Linked DNA regions of Homo sapiens. The protein of the gene in region 1 purifies or fractionates together with the protein of each later gene. This does not show direct contact. Each region holds a gene or a part of one and is shown in the gene's direction. Other genes may lie near its edges.

Region 1 (4,269 bases):
CCCAAAGTGCCGGGATCACAGGCATGAGCCACCACGCCCGGCCTCACCTCCCTCTTCCTTATTAAGGCTTAGGAGCTTGTTGTCTGTTCTGGACACTTAGCCATTGCTGGTGGCGTGTGTGACAGACATCTTTCCCCAGTCCTGGCTGGCTGTCCTGGTCATGATGGTGTCCTGGTTGGTTTTAACCTGCTGTGGACTGAGTTAGTCCTGCGTCCGACTCCCCTCCACCTTCCGTGCCTTTCTTCCCTCACCCACCTTCTCATTCCCACGTTGCCTACTCCTTGTCCAGAACACACAGGGAGCAGCCCCTACTTGCCACATCACCCCACCCCAGGGTGCCCCTCCCTGCCCCGCTCTCCCTGGCTTCCTTCCAGTCCTTCTCAGGTGTTGGCACATGGAGCCCACAGAGCTAACAGCCACCCCACTCCTGAGTTTGGATCTGCTTCAGTGTCTGGGAGGTGGAGGTGAAAGACACCTGCTTTTATTATGGACAGAGCTGATTGGGTGGCGTGGTCCCATGAGTTTTCAAGGTCATCATCCAGACTCGAGCAGGTTTGCCCTTTAGTTGAGGGCAGGGGGGACTACTGCAGGGGACGCCGGTGGCCCCAGCACGTTGCCCAAAGTGTGCCTGGTCTGCGGTCTGCAGGACAGTTCTCAGCTCTCACAGAACATCACGGCCAGCTGGGGGCCAGGGTCTGCCCTTGACTCTGTTCCACTTCGCCCAAGGTGGGGCCGGGACTTTGGCACTTAGGGAACCCCAGATGGCTGTGAGGGCTGAGGACCACTGGACTAAATGGGATGGTGCTGAAAAGCAGTTATGCACTCAGAGGAGGCACTTCTGCACTGGACTGAATCAGATCCCTGTCTCAACCCACCCCGGGCTCCAGGAGCACCTGTCACATGTTGGCACACATGTGCACATGTGAACATAGACAGTAGTGCTCACCTATATGTACACACACATACACACGGAAACATGTCCGTGCACAGCATGCATGTACACCTGGTGACCGATCAAAGGTGAGGCGACGTTCGATGTTGAAAACCAAAAGCTGGAGGCACTGCCCCTCAAGCCAGGAGGCAGGCGTGTGTCAGCATAGTCTGGCCAGCAGGGCAAGGCTCTCCCTAGCCTTAGGGGAGGCTGCAGGTGACGCCGGTCCCAACAGCATGCTGTCTGCAGCAAATCTGTTGCTGGGGCCGACTCCCAAACGGGGCTGTCGAGGCCCGGTTGGCTTTCAGAGGCGTATCCATGGGAGTAGGTGTCATGTATCAAATAGGAGATTCAAAGTCAGCTGTTACCACGGCTACAGAAATGCCAGTCTTTTCCTAAGAGTGCGAATGGACACACACATGTGCATACGTGCACACATGCACCCTCAGGCTCTCACGGAGCCCTGGGTGCCTACAGCAGGACGTCCAGGACGGGAACACCACAGTGCACTACGCCCTCCTCAGCGCCTCCTGGGCTGTGCTCTGCTACTACGCCGAAGACCTGCGCCTGAAGCTGCCCTTGCAGGTACGTGGGAGGCATGGGGACAGGGTGGGCCTGGAGGTCCCGGTCCCCACACACTGCGTTCAGCTGCCAGTGCCGACAGCCTCAGGAGGGCTCCCTGCTCAGAGGCCTCAGGGGCTCCTCCTACCCACCCCGACACCAGGCCCCAAGAAACCTCACTGGGCAAACAGGGCAGGTGGTGGCATCCCCCACAGTGGGCTCCCGGGAGGTGGGGTCGGGTGAACAGTGCGTGTGCACTGAGCTGGCCCCTCCAGGCCCAGACCCCCGCCAGGCCACCTGCTGAGGGCCCTGCCTATGAACATGGGGTGGAGAAGGCTGCCTCCAGGTGACCTCAGGAAGATGGGCCTGGACGTGGGTCCGCCTCCCACCGCACTGGCTGGCCTGACCCTCACTGCGTGCGGGTGGGAGACACGCTACTTACCAGTTCCCACCCCTTTTCCACTTGAGGGTCTCTGGGCTACAAATTGACAAGCTGAGCAGCCTCAGAGCCTGAGGCCCTGAGAGGGGAAGGGGCTCACCTGGGCCCTCACAGGGTCTACCACGCTCCTTCCCTCTGCTGGAGCCCCTTCGCCCATTGCCCAATTTGCAAACTTGCACAACCTCCACTCCCACCTGGGGCATTTGCCCTCCTCCCGGGAGTGGGAGGAGCCACTGACGTTTCCTTCCAGGAGTTACCCAACCAGGCCTCCAACTGGTCGGCCGGCCTGCTGGCATGGCTGGGCATCCCCAACGTCCTGCTGGAGGTTGTGCCAGACGTACCCCCCGAGTACTACTCCTGCCGGTTCAGAGTGAACAAGCTGCCACGGTAAGGCAGGGGCCCTGCCAGTCGGAGGAAAGAACAGGAGTGAGTGGGAGTCGGTGAATGAGTGAGCGGAACTTGGTGCTTCCCCAGGACTCTCCTCACCTGGAGTTTTCGGCAGGGAATCTGAGGCCAGGTGCGCACGCTTATCGCGTGTCTGCATTTCCAAATGCCGCTGCGTCAGCCGGGCTGGGGCGGTTGTGCTGCAGGACAGATAACCCCCCCAAGGCCCAGTGGCTGGACACGCGAGGTCTAGTTCCTGCTCAGGCACACGTGTGGTGGGGCGGCGCGGTACCTGCTCACCACGGTCTCTCAGGGCCCGGGCGATGGAGGCTCTGTCTCGTCACAGCGTCCCCAACTGTGGAGGTAGAATACAGGGACACGTTTGGCCCATGCTGGCTCCCTCCTGGAAACGACACGTGTGTCGTCCACACACATTACTACTGGACAAAGCCAGTTGCACTATGGCACCAGGCCTACAGACTAGGGGAGTCCAGAAGTGGCAGGGACCACTGTCGGGGAACCAGTGCTGAAGGCGGCCTTTCTGCCACACGGGATGCCTCCTTTTGGGGCTGGTGGGAAATTCAGCCTCACTCCGTGTTGCCCCACCTATGGCTTCCCAAGATTCTGGTTTCCCAGGGAGGGCCCCTACCCAGTCACTGTCCGCACTGCCCACGAGCACCCTCGGCCCCATGACGGAGCTTCAGGGCGGCACACGGGATGGGGCTCCCTGGCCAGCCTGGCCCTCTCTACACCGCCCTGCCCTGTGCCCAACCACAGTTTGCTTCCCCCCACCCTGTGTGTGGTGAGGGGTTCTGGGTATCTGGGGGCCTGCTGTGGCCTCCTGTTCCTGGGGATGTGAAAAGGCATAATCGGGAGCTGCTGACCTGCCGGGGAGCCAGCTGCTTCTCCTGGGGCGAGGGCTGTGTCCGCAGGCCTGTGCTTCTGCGTGCGCGCCAGCACCCGGGCCCCAAACCTTCTGCACCGTTCACATGCCCGCAGCTTCCTCCAAACCTTCTGCACCGTTCACATGCCCACAGCTTCCTCCAAACCTTCTGCACTGTTCACATGCCCACAGCTTCCTCGGGAGTGACAACCAGGACACCTTCTTCACAAGCACCAAGAGGCACCAAATTGTGAGTGGGGGTTCCCTGCCGCGGGCCCCAAACCCTGACCTGGCTCTGAGGATCCTGCCAGCCCCCAGCCTCCATGGATGCAGAAAGGCCTGCTTGAGACCAGAGGGCCGAGGCCTGGAGCCCGGAGGCTTTGGAAACTTTAGAGGCTGACCTCACCTCGCTACACAGGGCAGGCCATGACCTGGGATTGGGAAGGGGTGGGGAAGGGCCCAGTTCCCCTCCGGGACCCCAGGGCTCAAAATAGATATTGGATCTATGGACATGTGGGACAGCCGAGACTAGCCCCAGGCAGGGTGGGTCCTGCCGGCTGGGAGCAGACCTGCCCTGCAGCGTCGGAGGAAGGGTGGCCCCAGGCGGGGCAGGCCCAAGGCACCCGGCAGGAGGCCTGTTCCTGAGGCCTACCCAAGAGAGGCCCTGCTGACCACCACAGGGCACACAGTCACGTGGCTGCCCAGGTAGGGGGCAGGGCACACCCTGGACACAGCTGCCAGGCTGCAGTGTTCACCGTCACCCAGGGTGCAGGTCCAGAGTGGGCTGCGCACGGCCAGGCAGGGGCCCAGCTTCAGGTGCAGACTCGACTCCCACATGCCGTGTGGCTCTGGTCAAGGACTCTGAGCCTGCACAGTGGGAGAATGAGCACTACCCTGGCACAGGGGCGTCCTGCATGTGCATGTGCGGTGGTGACACAAAGTCCCAAGCCTTTCCATCAGATCGCTATTGTCACCAGAAGGCTGAGGGAGGCCGTCCATGGCCTTGGCCTAAAGACAGGCTAGCTAGGACTTCCCTGTTCTGCTATCACGTGACAAGTGACCTGCGCCATC
Region 2 (4,269 bases), on another chromosome or scaffold:
TACAAAGCGTGAGCCACCGCACCTGGCCAAAATAAAGTATTTCTGTATCTGTAAGCCTGAGAGTCCCACCCTTCTCAGTGAAGACAGCCAAGAAACTCTGGGGTGATTGAAGAGAGTCGTGGGTGGATGGTGTTGACCCATGCCTTGGGGAGGGACATTGAGGGTGGGAGCATCCTGAGTTTGTCCATGGTCTCTGAGGACCAGGACAGTGGCGAGCCCCTGAGCTGTGTCTGAGGGAAGACCAGAACTGGGCCCAGAATGTGTGATGGGGACACTTCCTACCTGCCCCTTAATGTGTCCTGTTGCCCACAGCACCTGCTGAAGTGCAGCTTTGACGTGGTCAAGCGCTGGGTGAATGAGGCTCAGGAGGCAGCATCCAGTGATAACATCATGGTCCAGGTGAGATGTGAGCAAGGGAGTGATATTTAAAACACTCAGGCAGGTGGTAAGGCACTGGCCAGTTGGCATGGACACTTGCCACCGAGATCCTTGTGACCCCTGGCCATAGCAGGCTTTAATCCTTTCGTCATTGGATCATGGGAGGAATTAGGAGGTCCTGGGTTAGAGAATCCAGGGTACCACTTGGGGCGCTTGGGTTACAGACTGCTTACCAGCTGGTGCTGAAATATTCAAGTATTTTGATAACCAGCTGAGTATTGTTTTGGAGCATATGATGTGGCAAACTTGGCCAAGGCAGGCAGAGGGCCGCCTAAATTTAGGCCTTTGCCAGCCTGGCTTTGTTATGATGTGTGGAATTATCTTGATGAGGCTTTCATCCACTTTACTCTTCCTCAGTGACCTAGGACAGCCGTTCCTTTTATCTCTCTGGCTCTTGGTTTCCTTGTCTGTAAAATACGAATGAAGGTTACTGCCTCACAAAGCAGCAAGGACGAGCTGAGATCATGCATGTAACATGTGACCCATCTGGGTCATGAGTGCCTATCGGCGCTCCCTGTGTGTTTATGTATTCCCTTTATCTCTCATCTGTCTTCTCATCCTTTGCACGATTCTTGTCTTCAGGGCCAGCTGTGGCCCCTCAAAACACTTATGAGGGCCAGATAAGCTTCCCACATAGAAGGCTTCCACAGCTGCCATATCTTTGCCCCCAAATGTCGCTCCTTTAGGAAACAAAAGAGAGTATCGAGGACAGGAAATAACTATGAGACCTCACATCTTTAGAAAGGGAGTCTCTGGGCTTCTGGCCCTCCAGGCCTAGCTTTGTCAGTACCAGCCAGGAGTCTTTGGGCAAGTCAGCAAAGATTAAACTGTCTACCTTCAGGGTTGTTGTGGGTAATGCAAGATTTCATGGCTAAGGTGTCCCACACAGTGACTTACAAAACATGACAATGCTCAGGGTCTGGCTCCCACCTTCTCTCTCTCATTGTCTGATTGAAAGCACCAGGTCTCCCACATTGCTTTCATCTTTGTGCTGTTTGTTGTCCCTTTCCATATCTGTATTTATGCTACCTGTTAGGGCTCTTGCCGAAGCAGGGGTGGGAACAAGAACCACAGATATACTTCTGTGGTTTGTGAAGCATTGTGTGGAGGGCTGTGTACACAGAGTACCTGGGGCAGTTGTCACAGCCACTCTGTGTGGTAGCTGCTACTGTGCCCATCTTAGAAATGAGAAGGCTGAAGGACCCACCCAGGGCCACACAGCCAGTATACCCAAAAGTCATACATTTGTACTCTGTTGCTGTCTCCTGTCCTATAGTACCACGCACTAGGGCTCCTGTACCATGTGCGTAAGAATGACCGCCTAGCCGTCAATAAGATGATCAGCAAGGTCACACGGCATGGCCTTAAGTCTCCCTTTGCCTACTGCATGATGATCCGGGTGGCCAGCAAGCAGCTGGAAGAGGAGGATGGCAGGTAACGGCTCTCATCTCTCACCAGCTAGATGATGCCTCACTCATCCTACCATGCTGGGCCACCCCCAACGTTTTCTTGCCACCCTATGTTCTTTTGTAGCCGTGACAGCCCACTGTTTGACTTCATCGAGAGCTGCTTGCGCAACAAGCACGAGATGGTGGTGTATGAAGCCGCCTCGGCCATCGTCAATCTGCCAGGCTGCAGTGCCAAAGAGCTGGCCCCGGCTGTGTCAGGTCACTGGGCATTCCTTCACCCAGCCTCACATGTTTATGCTTGCTGGGAACTAGGCCTGGGTTCCCGGGCTAGGAGAAAGAAAGAAAATGCTCTTAACAAGTGTTAAGGAGTCTGTACCTAGGAAGCACCTGCCCCAGACACTATGCTGAGTCCCCACTTGTATCACGTTTTGGTGGTGGGCTGCTGTTAGTTCCATCTGACTGCTGAAGAGGCTGAGGTAAGGCTCGGGTCCACTCTGGAGCCTGTCAGGTTGGCTGGCCACAGGAGGAGGCCTGGTGGAGGAACCCAGGATCTGTGAAACTGGTGCATGTGAAGTGGGGCTGCACTTTTCCAGGTGAAGGAGAGAACAGTATAGAGGGTCGTTCTGAGCCTCCAGCTCCAGCACTGGAGCAGGGCAGCCTGGGTTAGAGCCCTGGCTCTGCCCCTTACCAACTGGGCAAGCCTGGCAAGGCCGCCCATCCTCTCCATGCCTTCCTTTTCTTTTCTCAGATGTGGATGATAGATCATGCCTATTACATAGGGTTATATAGCCAGAAAATGTGTGATCTAGACAAATTGCTTAGAAGGCAACATGTTTGTTGTTTGCCGTTTGCTGTTTTTTGTTTTTGCTTTTTGAGACGGAGTCTCACTATGTCGCCCAGGCTGGAGTGCAGTGGTGCGATCTCAGCTCACTGCAACCTCTGCCTCCCAGGTTCAAGCGATTCTCCTGCCTGAGCCTCCCGAGTAGCTGGGACTACAGGCGCCCACCACCACGCCTGGCTAATTTTTGTATTTTTAGTTGAGATGGGGTTTCACCATATTGGCCAGGCTGTTCTCGAACTCCTGACCTCATGATCCGCCCGCCTCGGCCTCCCAAAGTGCTGGGATTACAGGCGTGAGCCACTGCGCCCAGCCGTTGTTTGCTGTTATTAAGGGGAATCCAGCAGCCTTGAGTCCTGGAGTCTTTGGTGTCTCCTCTGTGCAGGGCCCTGCTCTGGGTGTGGGAATACCCTGTCAGGGAGGAGAAAGCCTATGAAGAGGTGCAAAGTGGTTGGTACTGGAAAGTGGATATGTTGAGAGGCTAGAAAAGGAGAGGTGCTTAGGGTGAGAAACCTGGATTCAAAGTGGAAGAGAAGAGGGGAGTGTTTTAGAACAGGCCCATGGAAAGCAAAGATGTTGTGGCAGGAGAGTTAGATTTGCAGGTTTTGAGAAATGATTGGGCCTCTTGTTTTTCTATTATTCTCTACTATAACAGTGTAAACTTGGTCAGGCAAACAGATGGAGTTCATGTTTGGAGAGAGAAGTCTCCTTTCCTCCTTAGAAATGAAGAAAGAATGAACTGCTGGGCACGGTGGCTCACGCCTGTAATCCCAGCGCTTTGGGAGGCCGAGGCAGGGGGATCACCAGGTCAGGAGTCCGAGGCCAGCCTGACCAACATGGTGAAACCCCATCTCTACTAAAAATACAAAAATTAGCCGGGCGTGGTGGTGCGCATCTGTAATCGCAGCTACTCATGAGGCTGAGGCAGGAGAATCACTTGAACCTGGGAGGTGGAGGTTGCAGTGAGCCGAGATCGCGCCACTGCCCTCCAGCCTGGGCGACAGAGGGAGACTCTATCTCAAAAAAAAAAAAAAAAAAAAGAAATGGAAAAAGAACTAATGAATTCAGTCACTGATTTGGGTATTCATTCATTCTTATTATATCCCCCATATTTCCAGAATAATGAAAGATGTAAATAAAGTAGGGTCTTCAAAATAAGCATTAAGAAAAATTTTTTTTGAGTATTAGAGAATAAAAGCCAAGTTATGAAGAAAGGAACATAGATATTCCAGAAAACAGTAGTCATCTTCGCTCCTATGATTGAGTGCCAAATTTAGCTCTGAGCTTCCGGGCAGCCAGGGCAAGGGAGGGATATGGTACCCGAATGGCTCTCATCTAGTTAAAGGAAATAAACCATTTGTTTAAGAGAGGACTTTGTTCTTCAGCACTTGGTGCCAAGGGGGAAGTTCTGTTGGATCCTGTAGACACAGTAGGAGAGAGGAGTGGAATATTACTTCACAGAGGTTAAGGGCTTAGGCTGCAGGTGCAGGCAGTCTTGGAATTTAATCTTGGTTCTGCCACTTACTGGCTGCCAACCTAAAGTTTGTTTGCTTTCCCCTTTGTGCCTCAGTCTCCTTATCTGTA
Region 3 (4,269 bases), on another chromosome or scaffold:
ACCACGCCTGGCTAATTTTTGTATTTTTTAGTAGAGACGGGGTTTCTCCATGTTGGTCATGCTGGTCTTGAACTCCTGACCTCGTGATCTGCCCGCCTCGACCTCCCAAAGTGCTGGGATTAAAGGTGTGAGCCACCGCGCCTGGCCTTTTTTTTTTTTTTTTTTCTTGTACTGTACTCTAGGGCTGTTTATATTTTTTTAATCTATAATATTAAGTTTCCTAGTCATTTACCTTTTTTTGGTAAACACTTGAGTTATACAATGATGAAAAGTAAAGTTCCTTCCTACTGTTTCTCTCCAGTCCCCTGTTTCTCCACACGCAGCTACTGTTAATCAATTTCTTTTGTATTTTTCTGGGGACACTATTCCTATGTATTTATGCCTGACTCAAAAAAAAACAAATACTCCTCATACTTTGTTTATATACTTTGATTATTTTATATACACTCTGTTGGGAACCTCTGCTACTACCTTCCCCTTTTTTAAAAACAATGTATCTTGGAGGTTGTTTGGAATCAGTAGGAAGTACATTGCCTTGTTCATTTTAACACAGCATTGTATCCCATTGTGTGTATTGCATAATTGATTTAACAAGTTCCTGTGTGATGGATAATTATAGTTTGTTTTCACATTTTTGCTGTTGTAGTTTTGCAGTGTCATTCTACTTATCTTTGCATGTATATGTGAGTATATCTGTCCCATAAATTCTTAGAAGTGGAATTGCAGAGTTAACAAATAGATGTATCCACCAGAAACACTGCATCAGTAGGAAGTACTTTGCCTTGTTCATTGTAACACAGCATAGTAGCCCATCATACATTGTAGGGATGCCCCATGATCAATTTGACATGTTACTGTGTGGGCATTTAGTACATTGTTTGCATGCTTTTGCTGTTAAGTGCTGCAGTAAAAGTCATTCTTCCCTGGCTGCAAGGAAGTTTGATAAAACCTTTACCAATAAGAAAGACACGCCACAAACTTAGGAAAAGGATTCAAATTTTGGGCCACCAGAAATATACAGCTATGTACTGTAACCATTGTGGCAACAAATGTATTTAGGCCGTAGATCTATGATAAATGTGTAGGCATGTATCAATTTTTTTTTTTTTTTTGAGACTGAGTCTCACTCTGTGGCTGGGGCTGGAGTGCAGTGGCGCGATCTTGGCACACTGCAAGCTCTGCCTCCTGGGTTCACGCCATTCTGCTGCCTCAGCCTCCCGAGTAGCTGGGACTACAGGTGCCCGACACCACGCCCAGCTAATTTTGTTTTTGTATTTTTATTAGAGACAGGGTTTCACCATGTTAGCCAGTATGGTCTCGATCTCCTGACCTCGTGATTCACCCACCTTGGGCTCCCAAAGTGCTGGGATTACAGATGTGAGCCACCACGCCCAGCCAGGCATGTATCTATTTTTAACTGGAAAATTGAATAGCTTGTGAATTAGTAATGATTTGGGTCATTTAGTACCAACTGTCTCATAAAGGGAACAAAATTTTTTTAAAGTTATTCTACTTTGCGATGCCTTCCAGCAAGGTATGAGACTTTTCTCTTTTTGTAAATTTGTCTCTTCGTGTACGTTGTACCCTTATTGTATTACATTGTTCCCTTATCATATTACGTTCTTCTGTTTCTTCTTAATTTATTAAACCTCATATATTGAGGAAATTAGCTCTATGTCTGCCATATTATGTTTACAAATATGTTTCCAGATTGTCATATGTCACTTGTCTTATTTATTTACTTTTTGGCCTTCTGCGCATTACGTTTTTTTAAAATTCTAGGCTGGGTGCAGTGGCTCACTTCTGTAATCCCAACACTTTGGGAGGCGGAGGCGGGCTGACCACTTGAGGTCGGGAGTTTGAGACCAGCCTGGCCAACATGGTGAAACTCCGTCTCTACTAAAAATATAAAAAAATTAGCCAGATATGGTGGTGCACGCCTGTAATCCCAGCTATTTGGGAGGCTGAGGCAGGAAAATCGCTTGAACCCAGGAGGTGGAGGTTGCAGTGAGCTGAGATCATGCCTCTGCATTCCAGCCTGGGTGACAGAGCAAGACTCTGTCTCAAAAAAAAAAAAAAAAAGAAAAAAAACAACTTCCATGTTTTCTTATTTGTAGTTTCAATTTGTTATATTAAAATCTTTGACCCTGTGAAATTTTATTTGGTATAAGGAGTGAATAGGGAACTAAAATTTTTTTCAGATGTCTGAATAATTGTCTTAATAACATAATTGTCTTAATACCATATGTTGGTGTTTTATCTTATGTTGACTAATTGTCTTAATACCATATGTTGATAATCCGTGTTTTCTCTATTGGACTTTAACGCAACTTTAATTGTATACTTATTTTCCATATACATTCAAGTCTGTCTCTGGACCTCTTCTATTCTGTTTCTGTATTTGTACACCAATACTAGCTTGTTTTAAATACTATGGCCTTATATGTTATAAAATCCAGTAGAGTGGAGAGGCATACCAATATTTTAGGCAACTCAATGTTTTCTCCCTACAGTGATCTACAGAATCATTGCAATCCCAATTAGAATTCTAGCAGAATTTTTTTTGTAGAAATTTCTACTAAAGCTTTGGCTAACTTTCTTCAGACACTCTCATAATAAGCAGATACTACTCTTTGGCCTTCCAGAAAGTCAACAAGTGAAGTGCCTTGAGCATCCAAAAAACCTGTTGCTGTTGCCTTTGCTCTTGACTGGTCAACTTTTGCTTTGACTGGACCACTTCCACCTCTTGGTAGCCATTGGTTTAATTGTGCTTTGTCTTTATGATCAAACTGGTAAAACCATGTTTCATCTTCTGTTACAGTTCTTCAAAGAAATGCTTTAGGACCTTGATTCCACTTGTTTAAAATTTCTTTTGAAATCTCTGCTCTTGTCTGCAGCTGATTTGGGAGCAGTGGTTTTGGCACCCATCATATGGAAAATTTGCTCAACTAATTTTTCATTAAGAATTGGTGGGAAGAAGGCTGGGCGTGGTGGCTCATGCTTGTAATCCCAGCACTTTGGGATGCCGAGGTGGGTGGATCACCTGAGGTTAGGAGTTCGAAACCAGCCTGGCCAACATGGTGAAATCCCGTCTCTACTAAAAATACAAAATTAGCCGGGCGTGGTGGCGCATGCCTATAATCTCAGCTACCTGGGAGGCTGAGGCAGGAGAATCGCTTGAACCTGGGAGGCAGAGGTTGCAGTGAGCCGAGATCACGCCATTGCACTCCAGCCTGGGCAACAAGAGTGAAACTCGGTCTCAAAAACAAACAACAAAACAAAGAATTGGTAGGGAGGCCAGGAGCAGTGGCTCACCTATAATGCCAGTGCTTTGGGAAGCTGAGGTAGGAGGATCAGTTGAGGCCAGGAATTTTGAGACCAGCTTGGGCAACATAGCAAGACTCCATCTATACAAAAAATAGGGCCAGGAGCAGTGGCTCATGCCTATAATCCCAGTACTTTGGGAGGCTGAGGTGGGTGGATCACCTGAGGTTAGGAGTTCGAAACCAGCCTGGCCAACATGGTGAAACCCCGTCTCTACTAAAAATACAAAATTAGCCGGACGTGGTGGCGCATGCCTGTAATCTCACCTACCTGGGAGGCTAAGGCAGGAGAATCACTTGAACCTGGGAGGCGGAGGTTGCAGTGAGCCGAAGCCGAGATCACACCACTGCACTCCAGCCTGGGTGACACAGTAAGACTCCAAAAAGAAAAAAAAAAATTAGCTGCACGTGGTAGCACATGTCTGTAGTCCCAGCTACTTGGGAGGCTGAGACAGGAGGATTGCTTTAGCCCAAGAGTGTGAGGTTACAGTGAGCTGTGATCATGCCTGTATACTCTAGCCTGGCTGACAGAACAAAACCCTATCTTGAAAAAAATATATATGTGGTGTAAGCCAAACCATATATATATATTTGGGATTACAAGCATGAGCTTGTAATTGGTTATATACACTCAGATGTCTGTGGTGTTGGCTATTGTTTCTGCTGTTAATCAACAGTCCTCTTCAATTAGGGCATGAACAAGATGAATTTTTTCCTTATAAATTGATGCGGGTGGTCTGCTGCTACAGACTTCCATCTTCAATATTATCTTGTTCCTTCTTAAAACAAGTTATCCATTTGTAAACAGGTGATTTCTTTGTCCCCATAAACTTTTCATAAAGCATCAGTGATTTCACTATTCTTCTACCGAAGCTTCACTGTAAATTTGGAGTTTGTTCTTGCTTCAGTTTTAAGCAGAATTCATGTTGCTGTTTTCAAACTGCTG
Region 4 (4,269 bases), on another chromosome or scaffold:
GGGTAACAGGCAGAGGTTGGAACAGTTTGGAGGGCTTGGAAGAAGACAGGAAAATGTGGGAAAGTTTGGAACCTCCTAGAGACTTGTTGAATGGCTTTGACAAAAATGCTGATAATGGGCCGGACATGGTGGCTCACGCCTGTAATCCCAGCACTTTGGGAGTCTGAGGCAGGTGGATCACGAGGTCAGGAGTTAAAGACCAGCCTGGCTAAGATGGTGAAACCCTGTCTCTACTAAACATACGAACAAATTAGCCAGGCGTGGTGGCGGTAGCCTGTAATCCCAGCTACTCGGGAGGCTGAGGCAGAGAATTGCTTGAACCCAGGAGGCAGAGGTTGCAGTGAGCCAAGATCATGCCACTGCACTCCAGCCTGGGTGACAGAGTGAGACTCCATCTCAAAGAAAAAAAAAAAAGTTGATAATGATATGAACAATAAGGTCCAGCCTGAGGTGGTCTCAGATGGAGATGAGGAACTTATTGGAAACTGCAGCAAAGGTGACTCTTGTGTTTTAGCAAAGAGACTGAAAACATTTGCCCCTGCCTTAGAGATTTGTGGAACTTTGAACTTGAGAGAGAGGATTTAGGGTATCTGGTGGAGGAAATTTCTAAGTAGCAAACCATTCAAAAGGTGACAGGGCCATGTGCAGTGGCTCACGCCTATAATCCTAGCACTTTGGGAGGCCGAGGCAGGTGAACCACTTGAGGTCAGGAGTTTGAGACCAGCCTGGCCAACATGGCAAAACCCTATCTCTACTAAAAATACAATAAAAATTAGCCAGACATGGTGGTGGGCCCCTGTAATCCCAGCTACTTGGGAGGCTGAGGCAGGAGAATCGCTTGAACCCGGGAGGCAGAAGTTGCAGTGAGCTGAGATTGCGCCATTGCACTCCAGCCTGAGCAACAAGAGCAAGACCTTGTCTCAAAAAAAAAAAAAAGAAGTGACTTGGGTACTGTTAAAAGCATTCCATTTTAAAAGGAAAACAGAGCATAAAAGTTTGGAAAATTTGTAGCCTGATGACACAGTAGAAAAGAAAAACCCGGCTGGGCACGGTGGCTCACGCTTGTAATCCCAGCACTTTGGGAGGCCGAGCTGGGTGGATCACTTGAGGTCAGAAGTTCGAGACCAGCCTGGGCAACATGGTGAAACCCCATCTCTACTAAAAATACAGAAATTAGCCGGGCCTGGTGGCAGGTGCCTGTAATCCCAGCTACCCACTGTAATCTCCAAGCCTGAGGCAGGAGAATTGCCTGAACCTGGGAGGCAGAGGTTGCAGTGAACTGAGATCATGCCACTGCACTCCAGCCTGGGCGACAAGACCGAGACTCTGTCTCAAAAAATAAAAATAAAAAATAAAAAAAGGAAAGAAAAACCCATTTTTTGCGGAGAAATTCAAGTTGGTTGCAGAAATTTGCATAAGTAGCAAGGAGCCTAATGTTAATCCCCGTGGGGGATTAACACCATGGGGAAAGCGTCTCCAGGCCATGTCAGAGACCTCACGGCAGCCCCTTCCCTCACAGGCCCAGAGGCCCAGGAGGAAAAAGTGGTTTTCTGGGCCAGGCCCAGGGTCCCTGTGCTATATGCAGCCTAGGGACTTGGTGCCCTGTGTCCCAGCCAGTCCAGGCATGGCTGAAAGGGGCCAATCTAGAGCTTGGCCTGTGGCTCAGAGGGTGGAAGCCCCAAGCTTTGGCAGCTTCCAAGTGGTGTTAAGCCTGTGGGTGCACAGAAGTCAAGAATTGAGGTTTGGGAACCTCCGCCTGGATTTCAGAAGATGTACGGAAACACCTGGATGCCCAGGCAAAAGTTTGCTGCTGGCGCGCTCATGGAGAACCCCTGCTAGGGCAGTGTGGAAGGGAAATGTGGGGTCAGAGCCCCCACACAGTCCCTACTGAGGCACTGCCTAGTAGAGCTGTGAGAAGAGGGCCACCGTCCCTTCAGACCCTAGAATGGTAGATCCACGAACGGCTTGCACCATGCACCTGAAAAAGCTGCAGACACTCAATGCCAGCCCATGAAAGCAGCCAGGAGGGAGGGAGACTGTACCCTGCAAAGCCACAGGGGTGGAGCTGCCCAAGACCATGGGAAGCCACCTTTTGCATCAGCTTGACCTGGATGTGAGACCTGGAGTCAAAGGAGATAATTTTGGAGCTTTAAAATTTCACTGCCCTACTGGATTTTGGTCTTGCATGGGCCCTGTAACGCCTTTGTTTTGGCCAATTTCTCCCATTTGGAATGGCTATATTTACCCCCACTGTATCTACGAAGTAACTAGCTTGCTTTTGATTTTACAGGCTCATAGGCGGAAGGGGCTTGCCTTGTCTCAGATGAGATTTTGGACTATGGACTTTTGGGTTAATGCTGAAATGAGTTAAGACTTTGGGCGACTGTTGGGAAGGCATGATTGGTTTTGAAATGTGAGGACATGAGATTCGGAGGGGCCAGGGGCGGAATGATATGGTTTGGGATTTAAATCTCAACTTGAATTGTATTTCCCAGAATTGCCACATGTTGTGGGAGGGACCCAGAGGGAGGTAATTGCATCATGGGGGCCAGTCTTTCCCGTGCTATTCTCATGATAGTGAATAAGTCTCACGACATCTGATGGGTTTATAAGGGGTTTCTGCTTTTGCTTCCTCCTCATTTTTCTCTTGCCGCCGCCACATAAGAAGTGCCTTTCACCTCTCGCCATGATTCTGAGGCCTCCCCAGCTATGTGGGACTGTAAGTCCAATTAAACCTCTTTTTGTTCCCAGTTTCAGGTGTGTCTTTATTGGCAGCGTGAAAATGGACTAATGCAGATGGGAAGTTGCACTTAACAGCACGGACAGTATGATCCCGTTTTGTTTACAAATAAAATGTTTATTTATCCACAATCTTCACTCAGTTTCGGACTGAGAGGCGAAATTATAGGCAATTTTTCCATTTTCTTTTTGATACTCCTCTGTATATTCTGAATCTTTGATACCAGGCATGCATTACTCTGCAATCAGAAAGCAAAAGAGGTTTCTATTTTGAAGAGAAGAAAAGCATTTAATTTAAGGACCAGATCTTTTAGAGACCTGACTGAGGCTTCATTGTTACTGTTTTTATCTAAAAGGAGATGTCAGCCAAGTGTCCCTGATCCCAGCAGGGAGACTTTTACCCCATGCACACAGAGCCTTTATCCTTACCTCTACAGGAAGGTAAATACTACAGTGAGGAGGCCGAGGTGGATCTGCGGGACCCTGGCAGAGACTATGAGTTATACAAGTACACCTGCCAGGAGCTACAGAGGCTGATGGCTGAGATCCAAGACCTGAAGAGCAGGGGTGGCAAGGATGTGGTAAGGAGTGGGACCAGGTGGCCGTGAACCTGGTGGGTTTACATAGATGAGGCTGTTTTTGCACCTACCAGGGCCCTTCCTGATCTTGATCTTCTGTCCTAGCCATGATCAGGTGATTGGAGCCTGAGGGCTCCCAAAACCTGTGAATTTATTGGAACTTCTTATCACCATTCAGTCACCAATTACAGGAATGAAAGTACAGGATAATTAATTTTTTCCCTACTAATTTGATCATTCATCCAATTAATATTTATTAAGTGCCAGGCATTTTGCTAGGTGTTGAGAAATGATGGTACTTATACATTTGCTTGATACAAAGATGGATGTGTACAAGTAAATTGTAGATACCAAAAATGAAATTATCATTAATAGTAAATGAATAAATGAGGTTTTAGGGGCAGAGAAATTAAACAATGTGACTAAAAACTCGATAGATAAGTTTTTTAAAATCCATTTTTTCCCCCAGGAATCTCACGTATTTGTGCTTATGCTGACAAGTTTTGTTAGAATTATTGCATTCAATCTATTCTAGCCAAGCTTTATGGCTATAATTCTGTTATTTTCCATTTAAGTTATCCTGTAATGTTATTTATAGAGGTCAAATTTTATGACAAGATGTTACTATTGCTGGGATCTCTGTGTAGGATCTGTAGAGATAGATTGTGCCTTTGCTGCCCTTATTCCATCTTCAATTCCTGTTACTCTAGTCCAAGCAGAAATTACTTTTTTTTGCCCGAGATTCTTAATCATTTTCCTTATACAATCATCCTCTTATTTTCTTCATGACCCTTCTCATGGTTCTGAGCTCCCTCCGGTGCCGTTTTTGGCCCCAGATGAGGATGGGTCAGTGGTGAAGGACTGAAGGAAGCTGAGCTAGCCCTGTCGTCAGTGGGCTTTACTGTTTTCTTTGCCCACAGGCAATAGAAATAGAAGAACGGAGGATCCAGAG
Region 5 (4,269 bases), on another chromosome or scaffold:
TCCCCCCAATTAGAGATGCCTCGGCAGTGGAATCCAATTTCTTTCCAGCCACAACCTACCCCATGGGTCGACCTATCAGATGCGCCGGCCGGGCGGAGAGCTGCCACTGGTGAGTGACTCAGGATGCTCGGGCCAGCAGACACAGGGGAGGCCCGAAAATTCAGATCCCATTGGCAGGAGGGAGGGGTGGGGCTGTAGAGGTGGCTCGTACCATCTCGGTGGTGGGCCTTCTGTGTCCGGGGCTTTCAGAATGACAGATCCCAGTGTGCCTGGCCTTCTCGGTCCCAGAAACACTTGACCTGCCTCTTGCTTGATGTCGTAAGGGGATAAGGTGCTGTCAGAATAGCCCTTTATGTTGGCTCTAATGCTTGGAAGAGACCCCTGTATTGAACTGAATTCTACTTCCCTGTGACCTCTGCCCGTGGGTACCTCACCAAGCATAGCTGTTTCCTTTTCTAGAAGATAGCCCTTTGATCATTGGTACAGAGTCACCTTGTCACAACCAGACCTCAGTTTCTCCTGGTCATTCCTCTTCAACTGTGCTTCTGTTGGTGTCTCAGCATCGTGAGGACAGAAGCCCAAAACCTGACTCCCTTCCCCAGACCTGTACATTCGGGCAGCGCGTACATTCTGTCTCCCTCTCTCTCTGCGCCCAGAGCCTCAGCTCAGCTGCCTCCTTGGAGGCAGCTACCTACCTCTCCAGTCCTGTCCTGGGGCCATCGTGGGTGTGGGACAGGACCTGTGACTCTTTCCCTTTCTTGTCTAGTCCCCCGCCACACACTCACTCCCATGGTTTGTAGCCCAAGAGTCTCTGGTAGGGCTGCGATAAGGTTGTGTGGTCCTGGATGATTTTACTTAGAACCTGGGTTTCCCCTGGAGAAAGGCTGGCCAGGGTGGCATCTGAATGGGACTGCAGCCTGCTGACAGGAGGCCTGGCCACCTGTCCTGGGGAGCAGCACTGGGCTTTTTTTTTTTTTTAAGATAGGGTCTCACTCTGTGGCCCAGGCTGGGGTGCAGTGGCACTATCACGGCTCACTGCAGCCTTGAACTCCTGGGCTTAAGCGATCCTCCCACCTCAGCCTTCTGAGTAGCTGGGACCACAGGTGTGTGACTCCACGGGGCCTGAGCACCAGGCTGGATGCAGCTTTCTCTTGTAGCTTGACAGGAGCCAGGGAGGGGGATCCCACCTGGAGCTGGTATACCCAACACAGCTGTGGAAAAGTTGACCACAGGCGGCCCCTTCCGCCTGATTGGATTATTGTATGATCATTCATTAAACTGTTTCTCTGTTGTTTTTTTGAAACAGAGTCTCACTCTGTCGCCCAGGCTGGAGTGCAGGGGCGAGATACCGCTCACTGCAACCTCCACCTCCCGAGTTCAAGCAGTTCTCCTGCCTCTGCCTCAGTAGCTGGGACTACAGGCAGGCGCCGCCACACCTGGCTAATTTTTGTATTTTTAGTAGAGACAAGGTTTCACCATGTTGGCCAGGCTTGTCTCGGACTCCTGGCCTCAAGTGATCCGCCCACCTCGGTCTCCCAAAGTGCTAGGATTACAGATATGAGCCACTGTGTCCAGCCTGCTTTTTTTTTTTTTTTTTTGAGATGGAGTCTCATTCCATCACCCAGGCTGGAGTGCAGTGGCACAATCTTGGCTCACTGCAACCTCCGGCTCCTGGGTTCAAGTGATTCTCCTGCCTCAGCCTCCTGAGTAGCTGGCATTACAGGCACCCACCACCACGCCCAGCTAATTTTTGTATTTTTAGTAGAGACGGGGGTTTCACTATGTTGGTCAGGCTGGTCTGGAACTCCTGACCTCAAGTGATCCACCCACCTTGGCCTCCCAAAGTGCTGAGATTACAGGCAGGAGCCACTGCGCCCGGCCTTGTTTTGCTTTCACAAGGCTTTATCTTTTGAGCAGTTTTAGGTTTACAGAAAAATCCAACAGAATGTCCAAAGAGTTGCCATGCCCCTCCTCTCCCATCTGGCACACAGTTTTCTATTCTTCACGTCCTGCATTAGTGTGGAGCATCTGTCACAATTGACAGGATGTTGATACATTATTATTAATAAATGCATGGTTTACCTTCCGGTTCCCTCTTGGTGGTGTACATTCTCTGTGATTACAGTATCATAAGAGTAGTTTCACTGCCCTAACATTTTTCTGTGTTCCCCCCTACTCATCTCACCCTCTTCCTACCAAACCCCTGGCAACCACTGATCTTTTACTGTCCCCTTAGTTTTGCCTTTTCCAGAACGGTCTATAGTTGGAATCAGACAGTATGTAGCCTTTTCAGATTGGCTTCTTTCACTTAGTGCAATATACATTTAAGGTTCCTCTGTGTCTTTTCACAGCTTGAGAGCATATTTCTTGCTTGTTTTTTAAATTATTTTATTTTATTTTATTTGAGATGGAGTCTCGCTCTGTCACCCAGACTGGAGTGCTGTGGCATAATCTTGGCTCACTGCAGCCTCTTCCTCCTGGGTTCAAGCAATTCTTGTGCCTCAGCCTTCTGAGGAGCTGGGACTAAAGGCACACACCACCATGCGCAGCTAACTTTTGCATTTTTAGTAGAGATGAGGTTTCACCATTTTGGCCAGGCTGGTCTCGAACTCCTGACCTCAGGTGATCTGCCCGCCTCAGCCTCCCAAAGTACTGGGATTACAGGCGTGAACCACCGCGCCCAGCCTGTTTTTTAAATAGGGTGCTGTGTTGCCCAGGTTGGTCTTAAAACTCATGACCTCAAGCAATCCTCCCTCCTCAGCCTCCTAAAGTGGCTGAGAGCTCATTTTTTTTTCAGCACTGAATAATATTCTGTTGTCTGGATATACCACACTTTTATCACCTGCTGTTTCTTTGTTTTTTATGATTATTATAAAAGAGATAGCTAATCATCATTAAATGTATATCAACCGAAAAGAGAACATTTAAAAAAATCCCTGAGTCCCTCTGTGGGGCATTTCATTCTATGTTCTACTATGTTCTTTAAATTTTTTTTCTTGTACATTCTTTCTAGTCCAAATCATATTCTTCTGGAAACAGAAAAGGCTTTCTGTCCGGCTTGCTAGATAATGTCAAACAAGAATTAGCCAAAAACAAAGAAATGAAAGAAAGTATAAAAAAATTCCGTGACGAGGCCAGAAGGCTAGAAGAATCAGACGTGCTCCAGGAGGCCAGAAGGAAATACGTGAGTTTCTTTGCTGCTTTTTTTTCCCTCACCCAGGCTGGAGAGTAGTGGTGCGATCTCGGCTCACTGCAACCTCCACCTCCCAGGTTCAAGTGATTCCCCTGCCTCAGCCTCCTGAGTAGCTGGGCTTACAGGCGCGCACCACCACGCCCAGCTAATTTTTGTATTTTTAGTAGTGAAGAGGTTTCACCATGTTGGCCAGGCTGGTCTCGAACTCCTGACCTCAAGTGATCCGCCCGCCTCAGCCTTCCAAAGTGCTGGGATTACAGGCGTGAGCCACCGCGTTGGGCCCCTTTGCTTCTTACCTTTCTTGGTTGACATGTTTGTTTCCAGGGCCAGGGTTTCTCCAGGCCAGGGACAGCCAGAGGAGCTCAGGGCTGGACGGTTGGGGGCAGGGTGGCTCGTGAGGAAGTGAGGTCACTGCTCTGATGCACTAATGAGAGGGAGCCAGGGGACAGGTGCGGGTCTCCAGGCCTCTGGGTTCTGCCATGAGACCATGCAGCGTTCTGTGCAGCTTGAAGCGTGGTCCCCAGACCAGCAGCAGTGGCTCCTCCTGGGAGTGGATGAGCAGTGCAGAGGCTCACACCCTCCCAAACTGCCAGGCCAGCGCCCGCATCTTCACAGGCCCCCAGGCAACGCATGCACACCAGCTATGGGATGCAGCGCTCCTGAGAGCTCCCAGCTGTAGCCCTCTGAGTGGAGCCTGGTGGAAACTGGGTGATGGTGCTGGTATTTTATTTTATTTTATTTTATTTTATGAGATGGAGTCTTGCTCTGTCATCCAGGCTGGAGTGCAGTGGCGTGACCTTGGCTCACTGCAACCTCCAGCTCCTGATTCTCCTGCCTCAGCCTCCCGGATAGCTGGGATTACAGGCGCCCGCCACCACACCCAGCTGATTTGTTGTTGTTGTTGTTGTTGTTTTTTGAAGCAGAGTCTTACTCCATTGCCCAGGCTGGAGTGCAGTGGTACGATTTTGGCTCAACACAACCTCTGCCTCCTAGGCTCAAGCGATTCTCCTGCCTCAGCCTCCCGAGTAGCTGGGATTACAGACACACACCACTACTGCCCAGCTAATTTTTGTATT
Region 6 (4,269 bases), on another chromosome or scaffold:
AGTGCTGGGATTACAGGCTTAAGCCACCACGCCTGGCCTTGTCTTTTTAATAGAGTTTCACCATGTTGGCTAGGCTGGTCTAGAACGGCTGGTCCAGAACTCCTGACCTCAGGTGATTCGCCCACCTCTTCCCCAAAGTGCTGGGATTATAGGCGTGAGCCACCACCCTGGGCCTTTTTGTTTGTTTGTTTTGTTTTGTTTTTTGAGATGGAGTCTCGCTCTGTTGCCCAGGCTGGAGTGCAGTGACACAATCTCAGCTCACCACAACCTCTGCCTCCTGGGTTCAAGCGATTCTCCTGCCTCAGCCTCCCCGGTAGCTGGGACTACAGGTGCGCACCACCACGCCTGGCTAATTTTTGGTTTTTGCTTTTTTGCTTTTGTTTTGTTTTTTTTTGGTTTTTTTTTTGAGATGGAGTCTCGCTCTGTTGCCCAGGCTGGAGTGCAGTGGTGCGATCTCAGCTGATTGCAAGCTCCGCCTCCCTGGTTCAAGCAATTCTCCTGCCTCAGCCTCCCGAGTAGTTGGGACTACAGGCACCCGCCACCATGCCTGGCTAATTTTTTGTATTTTTAGTAGAGTCGGGGTTTCACCGTGTTAGCCAGGATTGTCTCGATCTCCTGACCTCGTGATCCACCCGCCTCAGCCTCCAAAAGTGCTGGGATTACAGGCGTGAGCCACCGCGCCTGGCCTTGTGTTTTTAATAGAGACGGGGTTTCACTGTGTTGGCCAGGCTGATCTTGAACTCCTGACCTTGTGATCTGCCTGCCTCGGCCTCACAAAGTGCTGGGGATTATAGGAGTGAGCCATGGTGCCCAGCCTTCTTGAGCTTTTAAGGAGTTGTTTTTACATATACCTTAAGAGGATGATCTTCTGCACAGAACATTTCTTCTATAATAATTTCCATTAACTCTAGATGAATAGTGTAATCTCTTGAGTTGAAAGAGTTTAACTAGCTTCTAGGCCTCTAATTGACTTAAGGTCACTCAGAACAAGGAGATTGATTGCTCTGATGCAACCAGCTGTTTAATTGTGAAGTAGCCTTAAGCTGTTGAATTTAGTCAAATTTGTGAAGTAGCTGACAGATCAAGTTTTGCTAGTAGGCCAGGCGTGGGGACTCATGCTTGTAATCCCAGCACTTTGGGAGGCCAAGGCAGGCAGATCACTTGAGGTCAGGAGTTCAAGACCAGTCTGGCCAACATGGCGAAACCCCATCTCTACAAAATAATACAAAAATTAGCTGAGCGTCCTGGTGCACACCTGTAATCCCAACTACTCAGGAGGCCGAGGTGGGAGAATCGCTTGAACCTAGGAGGCAGAGGTTGCAGTGAGCCAAGATAGCACCACTACACTCCAGCCTGGGTGACAGAGCGAGACTTTGTCTCAAAATAAAATAAACCAAAAATATATGCTTTTTATTTACCAACTTTTTTTTTTTTTTTCCGAGACAGAGTCTCTGTCGCTCAGGCTGCAGTGCAGTGGCACGACCTCGGCTCACTGCAACCTCCGCCTCCCAGGTTCAAGCAATTTTCCTGCCTTGGCCTCCCGAGTAGCTGGGACCACAGGTGCAAGCCACCACGCCCATCTAATTTTTGTATTTTTAGTAGAGATGGGGTTTTGCCTTGTTGGCCAGGATGGTCTTGATCTGTTGACCTCTTGATCCGCGCTCCTCAGCCTCCCAAAGTTCTGGGATTACAGGTGTGAGCCACCGTGCTTGGCCTGTTTATCAACTTTTTAAAAAGTGACATGGGCTGGGTGCAGTGGCTCACGCCTGTAATCTCAGCACTTTGGGAGGCCGAGGAAGGTGGATAACCTGAGGTCAGGAGTTTGAGACCGGCCTGGCCAATATGGTGAAACCCCATCTCTACTAAAGATACAAAAAATTAGGCATGGTGGCGCACGCCTGTAATCCCAGCTACTCAGAAGGCCAAGGCACAAGAATCGCTTGAACCCCGGAGGCGGAGGTTGCAGTGAGCTGAGATCGCACCATTGCACTCCAGCCTGGGCGACAGGGTGAGACTCCGTCTCAAAAAATAAAAGTGGCATGAGTTAATAATGTAAGCTAGGTAACGCTTCTTGGCTACATGGGTGACCTTGTGCAAGTTAACTTAGCTAAGCCCCAATTTCCTCATTTATAAAAAGAGGTATATGTTACCTTACAGGATTATTGTAAGAAAAGAAAAAGTAATACTGCAAATAGATAGCACAGTACCTGTTGCATAGTAAGTGCTTAAAGAATGGAAGCCTCGGCCGGGTGCGGTGGCTCACTCCTGTAATCCCAGAACTTTGAGGGGCCAAGGTGGGCAAATCACCTGAGGTCGGGAGTTCAAGACTAACCTGACCAACATGGTGAAACCCCCCTCTACTAAAAATACAAAATTAAGCCAGGCATGGTGGTGCATCCTGTAATCTCAGCTACTCAGGAGGCTGAGGCAGGAGAATGGCGTGAACCCGGGAGGCGGAGCTTGCAGTGAGCCGAGATCGCGCCACTGTACTCCAGCCTCGGCGACAGAGCGAGAATCCATCTCAAAAAAAAAAAAAAAAAAGAATGGAAGTCTTTGTTATTAAATAACAATTGCATATCACTGTTTGATCCTTGGCACATACAGTGAATTTTCTTTGAAAGATGGAACATAGAATTCATTATTAAAACCTAGTGTCTTTTTTTTTTATTTTTTGAGACGGAGTCTCACTCTGTCGCCCAGGCTGGAGTACAGTGGCACGATCTTGGCTCACTGCAAGCTCCACCTGCCAGATTCACGCCATTCTCCTGCCTCAGCCTCCCGAGTAGCTGGGACTACAGGCGCCCACCACCACGCCTGGCTAATTTTTTGTATTTTTAGTAGAGACGGGGTTTCACCGTGTTAGCCAGGATGGTCTCGATCTCCTGACCTCATGATCTGCCTGCCTCGGCCTCCGAAAGTGCTGGGATTACAGGCATGAGCCACTGTGCCCGACCCCTTTTTTTTTTTTTAGACAGAGTCTCGCTCTGTGGTCCAGGCTGGAGTGCAGTGGCACTATCTCGGCTCACTGCAACCTCCACCTCCCGGGTTCAAGCAATTCTCCTGCCTCAGCCTCCCGAGTAGCTGGGATTATAGGCGCCGGCCCACACCACGCCTGGCTGATTTTTTGTGTTTTTAGAAGAGACCAGGTTTCACCATGTTGGCCAGGCTGGTCTTGAACTCCTGACCTCAAATGATCTGCCAGCCTCAGCCTCCCAAAGTGCTGGCATTATAGGCATGAGCTGCCGTGTCTGGCTGTAAAACCTGCTGTCTTAACACATTGAACGTCAAGTCATGGTGTAGTGAAAAAGATCATGATTAAACATATCAGAGGGCCAGGCATGGTGGCTCACACCTATAATCCCAGCACTTTGGGAGGCCAAGGCAGGCAGATCACCTGAGGTCGGGAGTTTCTAGACTAGCCTAACCAACATGGAGAAACCCCGTCTCTACTAAAAATACAAAATTAGCCGGGTATGGTGGCACATGCCTGTAATCCCAGCTACTCAGGAGGCTGAGGCAGGAGAATCACTTGAACTTGGGAGGCGGAGGTTGCAGTGAGCTAAGATTGCGCCATTGCACTCCAGCCTGGGCAACAAGAGTGAAACTCTGTCTCAGAAAACCATATCAGAGTTCAAACTTGACTTTAGCATTTAACCTAATACTATGAGCCTTAGTTTACTCATCTTTAAAATGGCAGTCATTATATACTTTGTAGTAGTAAGCATTGGGAATAATGTTTTAGTGTACATTAGATAGTATTACAAATCACTTAGTGCCTGGGTCATAATAGTTATTCAGTGAAATGGTTATGATTGTTATTCTCTACTTTCAAACATACTCAATATATAACAACCCATCATATAACTAACCATCAACCCAAATAGCCCCAATTCATGGAGGACAGACGATATCCCTGCCTAATTCTTCTTTGCTGATAATTCCTTTTTTTTTCTCCATCTTGCTCCTCTTCTGTCAGTTGATTTATGAAGACTCTATGGATCTAATCGCAAAGCTACCTTGTGTTGCAGCAAAGATCTACCGAAATCTCTACAGAGAAGGCAGCGGTATTGGGGCCATTGACTCTAACCTGGACTGGTCTCACAATTTCACCAACATGTTAGGCTATACTGATCATCAGTTCACTGAGCTCACGCGCCTGTACCTCACCATCCACAGGTAAGCTAGACCCAGCAACCACAGCCACTAGGTGCCTCAATTGGTGGGAAATTTTTTTAAAAGCTCCTTTATGTTCTCATCTTCTGAGAACAG
Region 7 (4,269 bases), about 23 Mb from region 1:
TATCCACACTTTTATTTATCCACTGGGTGTCTTGGAACATATCCCCCACAGATAAGGGGAGACTGCTGTACTGCTGGACATATATCATCTCAGTCTTCACACCAACCTGGGAGGTAGATGTTTTGTCCCCATTTTGTAGAAGAGGAACCTGAGGCCCGGTGACATTTGAGGAGCATTGCCTGTGGTCACATAGCCAATAAATTCTGAATTCTAAATAACTTGCTTTTTCTCACCCCCAGCATCTGAAATTTTAGCAGCTGGTAGAACAGTAAATAATGTAACTATTAATTCTGGGGGCCTATTTAGTGGAACACTTTTCCTGGGCCAGTCTTCCTCCCGCTCCTTTGTAATTTTAAACCACAGAAGTAAAATAACAAACGCCAGGTCTTGGAATTGAGAAGCAATCTTGTGATGGTATACTTCACGCTCAGCAAACTCATCGTTAAGGCACTGAGTTCTCGGACCTCTAACTCCCAGAAGACTTCCCATGAAGTCTCCTTTGGCCTAATACTCTCCTCAGCAGCCATTCTCTCTCTTCTAGCCATAAATAGTAAACTAAAATATTAATGAATGTGATTTGACAAATATTGCTAAGTCAGACAGCAGACCACTTAAGATCGATCGTAGCAACTTTTCCCACAAGGATCTGTGCTCAGGATACTTTATGCCTAGAGAAATTTGAAATTAGAGACTCAAAGTGTGTATGACTTGGAGCCCAAAGGTTATTTATTTATAGTTGGTTTTTCTCAGGTCTTTTGACAAAGTAGGAGAGTGAGGAACTCAGCCCTTCTTTGGCTGAATTAAAACCTAAAGGTTAAAAAAAAACTTACTAAGTGATGTAATAATGGGCTTTTATAAACTCCCTGACTCTTCAGCACAGTCAGCCTTCCCCAGGAAAGTATGCTTCCATGCTTCCTCCCATTGGTCATCCTCTTAATATTTCATTCAGTTGGTCCATGATTAACATTTCCATATTTTTGTTCTTTGCTCTTGTTTTCTAGAGGTGAGGAATGGTATTGGACTCGTTGCCTTTGTTTCCTGGCTACAGTTTCAAAATGAAGGCTCAGAAGCAATTTAAATTTTCATCTAGTTTTTTCCTTCTATTCTGAACTCTCTGCTTCTCCGTAAACCCACTTGATACTTCAATTCGTAGAGATACCCAGTGCGCTTTTCCTAAGTCACATATAGGGCTTTGAAGAAGCAAGGTGAAGCTTTGTATGATTCGTATAGGTTGATTTTTCAGCAGGGCTAGCATGCTTCATAGAAGCCAGTTTTTTTGAAAGGTATTGTCTGGCTTCTATATCAGCTTTTTAACACTCATAAACCATGTTATATATTCCATTATTTCCCAGCATCCCTGGAGAGCAACTTAGTCTTCGTTTCTTTCGCAGGTAATGGAGCAGAGATCGTGGAAAGATACGTACTTGATTAAGAGGTCTTGAGCAAGTTAGACAAAAATAAATGTGAAAACATGCGCATCTTGTTTGCTAGCCCCTAAAACAAAGTGGAATCATTGAGTTTACAGGTAGCTAGCTGGTAAGGCAATAGTCTTCATTTGCTTCCTACTTTGGACTTCAGGTCTGTTCTTGTGTTATATGTAGTAGTTCCATGAGGTAAATAGGTTCATTTTTATTCCCCCATTTTATTGATGATAGGGGAGAATGCAAAGGTGTAAGGGTATTTGTCCCAAAACATGAGCGTGATGAGAAAGCTAAAGTTGTAAAGCAGATGTCCTGACTATTCTTAGTGATTTCATAGTGTTATTTTGTGTTACACTGTCTATTTTAAGTTCCGAGCTGGAATTTACAAAGCAAGACAAAACTAGGGTAGAACTAAAGAGGGTTTCTTGAAGGTGAGTGGTAAGTACTTTGGTGATGTAAAGGAAGAAAGAAAGATGAGTAGGAAGGCTTACAGACGGGTTTTGAAGTGGAATAGAACTTGCCGTTTTGTTTATGGCCCGAAATCATCCTTTCTCTTTAAGCATATTAAAACCATTCTACATTATACTTAGCCATTTTCCTGCTGAACGTTTTACTCCTAATACCACTGTCCTGTGGGGAAGGCATTGACCAAAAGATGGCATTTTGTGGTATATAGCATGTTGTTAGGAAATTCAGAATTGAAAGTGAGCACCAACCAAAGCAGTAGATTCAACAGCAGGTGAAAAACAAAAGCTATAGCTGGCCTTCCTTTTTTATCTGACCTTCCTTTTTTATCCTCTACTTAAAGCAAGTCCAAAGGTTCAGGTCCATGAGAAAATGAATTGTGTACTCTGATTGGCAGTAACCTAAAATTTATACAGAATGGTCTGATCTTAAGTGAAGCTCAGGTGCCTTTCCAGTTCCCTTTGAAGGTAAGCAGCAATACAGTCATCTTAACTGAGGACCTTTTTTGTTGTTTACAGAAACAAACCGGAAGCAGTAGAAGTAACATTTGCAGGTAAGCATCTTTATCTCAGCCCTCTGAAGAGAAGGTACAATATGAAAAATAGGAAATAGGCTGGGTGCAGTGGCACATGCCTGTAATCCCAGCACTTTGGGAGTCCGAGGCAGGTGGATCACCTGATGTCAAGAGTTAAAGAACAGCCTGGCAAACATGGTGAAACCCCCTCTACTAAAAATACAAAAATTAGCCGGGCATGGTGGTGGGCACCTGTAATCCCAGCTACTCGGAAGGCTGAGGCAGGAGAATCACTTGAACTGGGAGGCAGGAGTTGCTGTGAGCTGAGATCACACCACTGCACTCCAGCCTGGGCGATACAGTGAGACTGTCTCAAAAAAAAAAAGAGAGAGACAAGAAAAGAAAATTGTACCTAAAATAAGCTTTGACATGGATTGGGTGCGGTAGCTCATGCATGTAATCCCAGCACTTTGGGAGGCCACGGCAGGCGGATCACGACGTCAGGAGATCGAGACTATCCTGGCTAACATGATGAAACCCTGTCTGTACTAAAAATACAAAAAATTAGCTGGGCATGGTGGCGGGCACCTGTAGTCCCAGCTACTCCGGAGGCCGAGGCAGGAGAATGGCATGAACCCAGGAGGCGGAGCTTGCAGTGAGCAGACATCGCGCCACTGCACTCCAGCCTGGGCGACAGTGAGACTCCATCTCAAAAAAAAAAAAAAAAAAAAAAAGCTTTGACATTTTGGATACTGTCCCTCATCAGGTCTTTTTGAGCTCTTTATAATAGATGACCATTTCATGTATTTAATCCACTGATGACTGACAATATAAAGTTACCTGCTGATAAATTAGAAGTTTGGATTTAATTTTGTGGTAAAACTGAGGTTTTTTTGTTGTGTTTTTTTTTTAATTTGGAAATATTACATTATCTTCAAGTAGCTGTCAGTCTTAGTTTGCCTAGCACTAGAGTAGTAGGGAAACATGAACAGCTAGAGATGTGTTCATCAAGTCAGAGAGAGATGTTGCTGCTTTCTGTTCCCTATAAAGAATTAGGTGTTGGTACTATTTACTTGTTAGGTGAATGAACTCAGAGGAATACAACCACCCTTTCTACAACAAGAGTCCTCGACAAGATGATCTTGGAAGACTTTTGCAGCTCTGAAGTGCTGTTACCTGGAGGCCAGGCACCATCCCTTTACCCTCCTACTAACTGGCATTGCCAGATATCCCTTCGTGATTCCCATGACAGCTCCATAAAGTGATGGCACTCAGCACCTAATTCTAGTTTCAGGAACCTATTCCTAGTTTCAGGAATTACACAGGCTGAGTCAGTCCTGTGTACTGCAGAAAGATAGAACCGAAAAAGAGGGGAGTCCTATAGATTAGAAGCAACTCAAAAGATAACCAAATGCAATGTGTGGATATTGTTTGCATCTTAATTCAAATAAGACAACAATGCTTAAAATTTTTTGAGACAGTAGAGAATATTTAAATACTTGACTGAATATTTGTTTTGTTTTTTTGAGACTGAGTCTCACTCTGTCACCCAGGCTGGAGTGCAGTGGCGTTGATAATCTGCTCACTGCCGCCTCCACCTCCCCGAGTTCAAGCGATTCTCCTGCCTCCGCCTCTCAAGTAGCTGGGACTACAGATCTCCACCACCACACCCGGCTAATTTTTTTTTTTTTTCCAGACAGCGTCTTGCTCTGTCGCCCAGGCTGGAGTGCAATGGCATGATCTTGGCTCACTGCAACCTCCACCCCCCGGGTTCAAGCGATTCTCCTGTCTCAGCCTCCCAAGTAGCTGGGATTACAGGCATGTGCCACCACACCCAGCTAATTTTTTGTAATTTTTGTAGAGACAGGG

What was found.
Region 2: the proteins of ANO7 (region 1) and COPG1 purify together in Homo sapiens (affinity purification with mass spectrometry, with the first as the bait; one large-scale study listed by BioGRID). This does not show direct contact.
Region 3: the proteins of ANO7 (region 1) and DDX52 purify together in Homo sapiens (affinity purification with mass spectrometry, with the first as the bait; one large-scale study listed by BioGRID). This does not show direct contact.
Region 4: the proteins of ANO7 (region 1) and THOC5 purify together in Homo sapiens (affinity purification with mass spectrometry, with the first as the bait; one large-scale study listed by BioGRID). This does not show direct contact.
Region 5: the proteins of ANO7 (region 1) and TIMM44 purify together in Homo sapiens (affinity purification with mass spectrometry, with the first as the bait; one large-scale study listed by BioGRID). This does not show direct contact.
Region 6: the proteins of ANO7 (region 1) and CS purify together in Homo sapiens (affinity purification with mass spectrometry, with the first as the bait; one large-scale study listed by BioGRID). This does not show direct contact.
Region 7: the proteins of ANO7 (region 1) and ARPC2 purify together in Homo sapiens (affinity purification with mass spectrometry, with the first as the bait; one large-scale study listed by BioGRID). This does not show direct contact.

Annotation. Positions count from the first base shown.
Region 1 is NC_000002.12:241,197,908-241,202,176, forward strand, and holds part of ANO7 (anoctamin-7), read left to right. Parts: intron 1-1,380; coding exon of another isoform or gene 1,381-1,408; coding exon 1,409-1,516; intron 1,517-2,181; coding exon 2,182-2,318; intron 2,319-3,352; coding exon of another isoform or gene 3,353-3,390; coding exon 3,391-3,448; intron 3,449-4,269. UniProt on the Homo sapiens protein: Has calcium-dependent phospholipid scramblase activity; scrambles phosphatidylserine, phosphatidylcholine and galactosylceramide. Does not exhibit calcium-activated chloride channel (CaCC) activity. May play a role in cell-cell interactions.
Region 2 is NC_000003.12:129,255,756-129,260,024, forward strand, and holds part of COPG1 (coatomer subunit gamma-1), read left to right. Parts: intron 1-312; coding exon 313-399; intron 400-1,714; coding exon 1,715-1,872; intron 1,873-1,971; coding exon 1,972-2,105; intron 2,106-4,269. UniProt on the Homo sapiens protein: The coatomer is a cytosolic protein complex that binds to dilysine motifs and reversibly associates with Golgi non-clathrin-coated vesicles, which further mediate biosynthetic protein transport from the ER, via the Golgi up to the trans Golgi network.
Region 3 is NC_000017.11:37,636,584-37,640,852, reverse strand, and holds part of DDX52 (probable ATP-dependent RNA helicase DDX52), read left to right. Parts: intron 1-1,284; exon of another isoform or gene 1,285-1,399; intron 1,400-4,269.
Region 4 is NC_000022.11:29,543,511-29,547,779, reverse strand, and holds part of THOC5 (THO complex subunit 5), read left to right. Parts: intron 1-3,176; coding exon 3,177-3,320; intron 3,321-4,237; coding exon 4,238-4,269. UniProt on the Homo sapiens protein: Component of the THO subcomplex of the TREX complex which is thought to couple mRNA transcription, processing and nuclear export, and which specifically associates with spliced mRNA and not with unspliced pre-mRNA.
Region 5 is NC_000019.10:7,936,942-7,941,210, reverse strand, and holds part of TIMM44 (mitochondrial import inner membrane translocase subunit TIM44), read left to right. Parts: intron 1-13; coding exon 14-109; intron 110-3,013; coding exon 3,014-3,184; intron 3,185-4,269. UniProt on the Homo sapiens protein: Essential component of the PAM complex, a complex required for the translocation of transit peptide-containing proteins from the inner membrane into the mitochondrial matrix in an ATP-dependent manner.
Region 6 is NC_000012.12:56,275,903-56,280,171, reverse strand, and holds part of CS (citrate synthase, mitochondrial precursor), read left to right. Parts: intron 1-3,976; coding exon 3,977-4,176; intron 4,177-4,269. UniProt on the Homo sapiens protein: Key enzyme of the Krebs tricarboxylic acid cycle which catalyzes the synthesis of citrate from acetyl coenzyme A and oxaloacetate.
Region 7 is NC_000002.12:218,223,516-218,227,784, forward strand, and holds part of ARPC2 (actin-related protein 2/3 complex subunit 2), read left to right. Parts: intron 1-2,404; coding exon 2,405-2,439; intron 2,440-4,269. UniProt on the Homo sapiens protein: Actin-binding component of the Arp2/3 complex, a multiprotein complex that mediates actin polymerization upon stimulation by nucleation-promoting factor (NPF).